Linked DNA regions of Homo sapiens. The protein of the gene in region 1 purifies or fractionates together with the protein of each later gene. This does not show direct contact. Each region holds a gene or a part of one and is shown on either strand. Other genes may lie near its edges.

Region 1 (3,820 bases):
CCAGGGACAAAGCTCATCAATGATGTCCCACTGTCCTCTGAGGCTCTAGCTCTAAGACCTCCAGTGGGTCAAGCTCCTGGAGAAGTGGCACATTCTCCAAAGACCCTTCAGGGTCACCACACCCTGGTTAAGGGTGTGGCCTCATAACTCCTTTTGACTATGACTGATGGCTTACAGCATAGAAAGAAATAACTTTGTCAAAAAATATAATAATGATAGAAAGGAAGAAGGAACGCTCCCTTTTGTCTTCTAAGAATAGATGTGAAATGTGTGTGCCTTAGAATATCTTCTCCCTCTCCTGCTCCACGTGAGCTGGAGCTTACATGCCTGCTTGTTTTCAGTACTGCCGTAACCCTGATGGTGACATCAATGGTCCCTGGTGCTACACAATGAATCCAAGAAAACTTTTTGACTACTGTGATATCCCTCTCTGTGGTAAGTTGCCTTCTGTTTTGGTAAGGAAACTGCTTCCTTAATATGGATTTGGAAAAAAAAAAGCAAAAAAAACAGAAAATGGCTTTTGAGCTGAGTGCTTCTGGGGAGGAGATGGCTGCCCTCTCCACCAGAGCCTGCTTTTCATCATGGCCACCTTGAACCTGCCCTACTATTGGCCCCATTTGTTAGGAAAACACCCGCCCCTCCCACCACACACACATAAATAAAATAAATGTCAAATTCCCAAAGGGCAAACTTAGAGGTGATCTAATCAGCCCGGGATAGTCCCACCGAACCCTTCTTTGTCTAGCGTGGGATGCATGAAAAACAAATTTAGAGTCATTATGATGAAAAACTGTCCTCTTCTGCAGCTGAGAAGAAAAAAAAAATACGAGCAGCAGGAAACAGCTAAGCATGTAATGCACATTGTAAACCTCAGATGGCCATCCTAGGAAATCAATGAAGGGTAGTGCAGCTCTTTAGCCCCAGATGGCCTTTCTCGTAAGATTACTACTCATGAGTCCCATTAGCGACATTGCTTAGAGACTGCTTGTTAGGTTCCTTCCTCATTGCTCTGAGACTCTTATTGGGAGTATGAGGCTTGGATCAGGGGAAGGGGAATTGACATTAGATCTTAAATGATTGGGGTAACAAATCCATGGGGGAAAAAAAGCCACTTGTACTTGTTCCCTATTTTCTTCCTGCTGACCAATCAACTTGTCTGTCCGAGTTACAGAACACCACCCTGGACTTTTCTTTTGTGTAATTTGGTTGCTTGTGGTTGGGTCTGCCATGTGAAGGGACCTTGAGCTGGGGGAAGAAGGTTGGCCTCCAAGTCCACTGAAGACCAGCATCCTGAGATTGCCTGGGGAGGTGGTACAGGGCAGTGATGAAGATCATGGGAGCCACACTGCCCATCGTCACATTTGGGCCACTCCTGGGGAGAGCAAGAGGGAAGAAGGAGAGGTTAGGGTGATAGGAAAGATTCTACTTGGCCAATATTATTATAATGTGGCATTGTGGTCTCTGGATTTAGTGTGAGTTGATAGCTGACTTTTTTCTCGAGTGGGTGCTTTTGTTCTATTTTGTCGGTGCTATTGCAGAAGCATCTTGGTGGTTCCTCTACCTCAAAGTCTCTTGATGGGGTCAGTTCCAGTTCTCCGCTTCTGGCCCCATCTAGTACACGCCACTGCCTCTCACTGCCTGGGCTCTCTATCCTTGACAGGCTGCCTTGAATTTAAGCCCAGTCTGACTTACCTGCCTCAAACACCCACAGTAGTGCCTGGGACTCATGCACCTTTGACTCCCATGGAAGGGAAGTGCAGTAGCTTCCCAGGTGCAATTCTGCTGTCCTCACCCACATTGAGGATGTATGAGAATCAGGTTCTTAGAGATTGGAGAAAGAAGGAAGAATGGGAACAAGATTTCTTCCAATGGACTGTGAGGTTCCCCACCTTACTTTGATGTAAGACAAGTGAGGTTAACCCCAAGCCTGGTGAGGAGGGTTCCCATCAGACACTTGGAAATCCTGAGGACTGTTTCCTGCAGAAGGATGTGGTTGGTGGGATATTCAGGTTTGACTCATGATTGAGAAAGTTAGAGCCTCTGGTTGGAGAAAGAGTTTAATAACTATTTCATTTCCACCAACACATTCAGTACGAATAATAAATAAGTAAAAATAAATAGAAACATTCAGTTTTATTTTGAATAGTAGGAGTAGGGTATAATTTCTGTAGTTACTCTTTTAGTACAATGATGCATGTTTACTGTATGTAAGGCATACTAGCAGAAATTGAGCTCAGCACTAGAAAAGATGATTGCATTCCATGCCATGCTTCTTTTTTACAAAAGACTTCTATAGATAGATTCTCAAAACAACCCACAGCAAATGAAAAGTTATTTGGAAAACTCAGGTTCCAGATTCACTGGAGTGTAGAATCTCTGGTTGGTTGGGGAGGAATTTCCTCTTGCAGTTGTTATTAATAATTATATGAATAATTATTAACTATATTAATATTTATAGTTTTGAAGACCTTGAAGGGCTGGAGACAACAGAGAAGCATTTTTGAACACCCTCTGTAGCCCCTGCACTGTTGTAGGCATTGATGGGTGGTACCAAAGATGGGACACTTTCCCTACCTCCAGAGACCTTGTGGGCTTGCTGCAGAGAGAAGGCAGGGAGGAGGAAAAGAAGAATAGAGGCACATGTGTGTAAATTACCCCCACAGCAGTCAGTTAGTCATGGGAGGCTCCCCAGAAGAACTGTCCTGAAGCTGGCTGAGAGAAGGCAACATTTCAACATAGGACAGTTATCCTTGCTACATAAAATCACATACACACATGCACATATGTCCACACACAGAGACTCACATGCAAAAGAATCCTTTGTGCCTTTCAGTAAACTTTACATGGTTTAGAAAGAACTTATATTTCCTTGAAAGGAGAGTGTCCTTTGTTGTTTACTACCACTTTTTAAACTTAGAAAGAAAAATCTAAAGAGTGTTTATGATTTTACCATTTAATTTCACCTTTGAGATGTGAAAAACTAGTGCTTGGAATTCGTCCTGAATTAAACGACACAATTGCTAACTTGGACTCAAATGCGACTTCTTTTCCCACCTTGTGCCACAGCATCCTCTTCATTTGATTGTGGGAAGCCTCAAGTGGAGCCGAAGAAATGTCCTGGAAGCATTGTAGGGGGGTGTGTGGCCCACCCACATTCCTGGCCCTGGCAAGTCAGTCTCAGAACAAGGTAAGAACAGGCCCAGAAACCATCTATACTGTCCTTCCATGTAAGCCCCACAAAACCCTTCTACATTTACACAGAACCCACACAGCTGATGCATCAATACCTGCCTCTCTGTTTTCTGAAGGAGGAAAAAATATAGAAAAATTAAAAAAAGTTATATTATTATAGGTTCTCTACTTGGAAAATAGCCAAAATACAAATCTTTTTCTTGATCTGGGCAGTTCCATCAAAATCTGTAGGCACAGTGATTTGCACCAAGTTCCAATACTTTTGGAAAATATTGAAGATGCTCTGAGGGTTTCTATGGATATCCATTGTCTCACTGTCAGATGAAAAGAAAGGGAAGTTTTTAGAAATGTGACACTTTGCAGTGAGGGAGGACAAGAGCAAACTTACCTACAGTCTATCACAGGCACAGATTTTTTTTTACACTTTTGTGAATCATTGAATTCAATGCCGAGGCTATTCATCTATTCACAAACACATGAACAAATTATGGGTTGTGATCCCCATAAATGAAGAGTAATCAGTCCGAACCCACAGAACCTGGACATTTTGGGTATCGTTTCAGTGGAACATGCAATTCGTAAGTTCAGTTTGCTTGGGTGTCTCTTAGGAAGAACACATAGGACACAG
Region 2 (3,820 bases), on another chromosome or scaffold:
ATAATATAAAGACAACCCAATTTAAAAATGGGCAAATGATTTTAATAGACATTTCTCCAAAGAAGACATACGAATGTAAAAATATACAATATGAACATACAATAAGCACACGAAAAGATGCTTAACATCATTAGCCATCAGGGAAATGGCAAATCAAAACGATACCACTTAGTACCAAGTTGGCTCTAATAAAAAAGACTCATAAAAACAAATGCTGGAAAGAACGCAGAGAAACTGAAACCCTCATACACTGCTGGTGGGAAAGTAAAATGGTACTGCTCATTTGGAAAACAGTTTGGCAGTTTCTCAAAAAGTTAGTTACCACATGACCCAGCAATTCCACTTTTAGGTATATATACCCAAGAGAAATGAAAATATATATCTATAGCTAGACAGAGTGGCTCATGCCTGTAATCTCAGCACTTTGGGAGGCCAAGGCAGGAGGATCACTTGAGGCCACACCAGCCTGGGCAACAAGGTGAAACCCAGTCTCTAGTAAAAAAAAAAAAATACACAAGGCCAGGTGCGGTGGCTCACACCTGTAATCCCAGCACTTTGGGAGGCCAAGGCGGGTGGATCACCTGAGGACAGGAGTTCAAGACCGGCCTGACCAATATGACGACACCCTGTCTCTACCAAAAAATACAAAAATTAAGCCAGGTGTAGTGGCTCATGCCTGTAATCCTAGCACTTTGGGAGGCCAAGGTGGGCAGATCACCTGAGGTCGGGAGTTTGAGACCAGCCTGACCAACATGGAGAAACCCCATCTCTACTAAAAATACAAAATTAGCTGGGCGTGGTGGCACATGCCTGTAATCCCAGCTACTCAGGAGGCTGAGGCAGGAGAATCACTTGAAACCGGGAGGCAGAGGTTGTGGTGAGCCAAGATCACGCCACTACACTCCAGCCTGGGCGACAAGAGCGAAGCTCCGTCTCAAAAAAAAAGAAAAAACATGCACAGCCAGGCACGGTGGCACACGCCTGTAATCCCAGCACTTTGGGAGGCTGAGGCTGGTAGATCACTTGACATCAGAATTTTGAGACCATCCTGGCCAACATGGTGAAATCCCATCTCTACTAAAAATACAAGAATTTTTTGTAGTAGTGCGCGCTTGTAGTCCCAGCTACTTGGAGGGTGAGGCACGAGTGCAGTGGTGCACGCTTGTAGTCCCAGCTACTTGGGATGCTGAGGCACGAGAATCGTTTGAACCCGGGAGGCAGAGGTTGCAATGAGACGAGATCGTGCCACTGCACTCCAGCCTGGGTGACAAAACGAGACTCTGTCTCAACAAACAAACAAAAAACCCATAAAAATTAGCCAGGCGTGCATACCTGCAGTCCCAGCTACTTGAGAAGCTAAGGCGGGAGAGGATCGCTTGACCCCAGAAAGTGGAAGCTGCAGTGAGCCGTGACCGTACCACTGTACTCCCACCTGGGCAACACAGAGATCATGTCTAAAGAAAAGAGGCCAGGTGTGGTGGCTCACGCCTGCAATCCCAGCACTTTGGGAGGCTGAGGCGGGTAGATCACCTGAGGTCAGGAGATCGAGATCAGCCTGACCAACATGGTAAAACCCCGTGTCTACTAAAAATACAAAAATTAGCTGGGTGTGGTGGCATGCGCTTGTGATCCCAGCTACTTGGGAGGCTAGGGCGGGAGAATCACTTGAACTCGGGAGACAGAGGTTGCAGTGAGCCGTGATGGCGCCACTGCACTCCAGCCTGGGCGACAGAGCTACACTCCATCTCAAAAAAAAAAAAGCAAGAAAAGAAAAAACATATTTATGTAAAAACCAGTACATGAACATTCATAGCAGCATTATTCATAATCACAGACAAAAAGGAGCAAACAACCTAAATGTCCACCAAAGGATGGATAAATAAAATGTGGCATTATCAAAACAGTAGAATTTATTCAATCATAAAAAGGAATGCAGTACTGATACATGCTTCAACACAGATAAACCTGGAAAACACTGTGCTAAATGAAAGAAACTGGACAGAGAAAGCCACATACTGTATGATTCCATTTTATATGAAATATACAAAGTGGACAAATGTAGAGAGGCAGAAAGCAGGTTAGTGGTTGCTGGGAGTTGGGGGAGGAAACAGGGAGTGGCCGCTTAATGGGTACAGGGGCCTTCTTAGGTGATAAAGCTAGTTAAGGAATATAATACTGAACAAGGCTAAGTCCAAATCTAATATACACCAAATATACAAGTAAACTTGGCATTTATACTAGTGCAGTACAAAAGTTCAGTTATATGTATCTTACCTTTCAAGGAGGAAAAAGATAATCTAGAATGTAATTGCTAAGCATAGGAGGATATTTTACAAAGGGTAAGAATTTCTTTGTTCACTTTCTGACATTTCTGGAGTCACTGTGTGAAGTTGCAAGTTCAAAGACAGCCATATACAAGAATACAGCCCCAGCTATCTTCATTTCTCCTCACTCTTCAATGTGCACCCTACATAAAAGGCCATGTAATTTCTCCCTCGCATGTCAAGCTCATTGCTGCTCCTCTACTTCTGCATACGACATTCTTCAATCAGAAACACCCCTTCCCATATTCACCAACTCCTTAATTCTCACCTCACTGCCAAGTCTCAATCTGATTTGCCTTGCTCCAAGAAACCATGCCTAGTTTAGGTACACCTGGTGCTCTGGTCTCCTGTGGCACCTTCTCATGAACCCTTACGATACCACATGCCAACATCATGCCTCACAACTGGACTTCAAGCTCTGTGTAGGCAGATGGTGGTGTCCTTGTGGCTTTGTATTCTACCACCCAACCCACAGCAGAGAATTGACTGTTGTTTAAATAGGAAAAAGGTTATTTTTCAAATTAAAATTTAGCATTTCAGAACTTTGGCTTTAAATGTGAGTTCACAGAAGCCCTGGAGTAGCCAGGTTAAAGGACCTGAGATTCTGCCACAAACCAACAGTGTCACCACAGACAAACTCTTATCAAGTGTGGCATTCTGTGGCTTGTAAAATGGTGAGTCAATCCAGATGATTACACTATGGCCCCTTTCCAGCTATAGTACTCTATATTTTCCCTACAGATTAGACTGCATCATGGATTACTGAAATTATCAGAGCTTACTCAACCAACATTTCGTTGTTCAAGCCACATGGAATATATGAAATGCTCCCTTACACTTGAAGACAGTTCCCCAAGACTCACCAGTCATCTGGCTTGACAGCTTCTGGATCTGGGATTTTTGGTCTTTCATCCCAATCCTCGGGCTTCCGGTCTTCTGGGTCCTCAATTTCACGTGAAGGATTTACAGGAGGAGTCATGTCATTGAGCAGATTTCCACTATTCACCACAGATTGGTCAACCAGTATTTCAAAACTATTATCTGGATTCAAGACTGAAAGAAACATTAAATGGAATTAAAAGTACTTAATTTTCCAAGCTCCCTTTACCATAATACAAAAGATCATGACTTCTAACGTGAAGCAGCAGAAGTCTGACCTGAGGCTTTGGGGTAAGAACAATGCCTGGCTCCTGGGGTCTTGGGGAAGCTAACGCCCATTTCCTTATGCACGAAACATAAATGATTAGTCCCTCGGCTTTCTAAGAATTACAGCAAATGATAGTTAAAATCTTTAACACCAAAGACTTGACTTATAGACACTAAAAAAAAAAAACAAAAAAAACAAGAAACTACATAAACTAACACAATTATTGGGCTTACACATATACACCAGTGAGAAGACAAATACGTGGACTTACAACTACTTCCCAGTACAAAAGGTCCATTTCTTCATTTTTAATAGAGCTGGTATTATTACGTTACTGAAATTACACAAA

Evidence for each region.
Region 2: the proteins of LPA (region 1) and CANX purify together in Homo sapiens (affinity purification with western blotting; 3 studies listed by BioGRID). This does not show direct contact.

Annotation. Positions count from the first base shown.
Region 1 is NC_000006.12:160,542,055-160,545,874, reverse strand, and holds part of LPA (apolipoprotein(a) precursor), read left to right. Parts: intron 1-341; coding exon 342-435; intron 436-3,066; coding exon 3,067-3,187; intron 3,188-3,820. UniProt on the Homo sapiens protein: Apo(a) is the main constituent of lipoprotein(a) (Lp(a)). It has serine proteinase activity and is able of autoproteolysis. Inhibits tissue-type plasminogen activator 1. Lp(a) may be a ligand for megalin/Gp 330.
Region 2 is NC_000005.10:179,715,662-179,719,481, reverse strand, and holds part of CANX (calnexin isoform d precursor), read right to left. Parts: intron 3,584-3,820; coding exon of another isoform or gene 3,482-3,583; intron 3,378-3,481; coding exon 3,188-3,377; intron 1-3,187. UniProt on the Homo sapiens protein: Calcium-binding protein that interacts with newly synthesized monoglucosylated glycoproteins in the endoplasmic reticulum. It may act in assisting protein assembly and/or in the retention within the ER of unassembled protein subunits.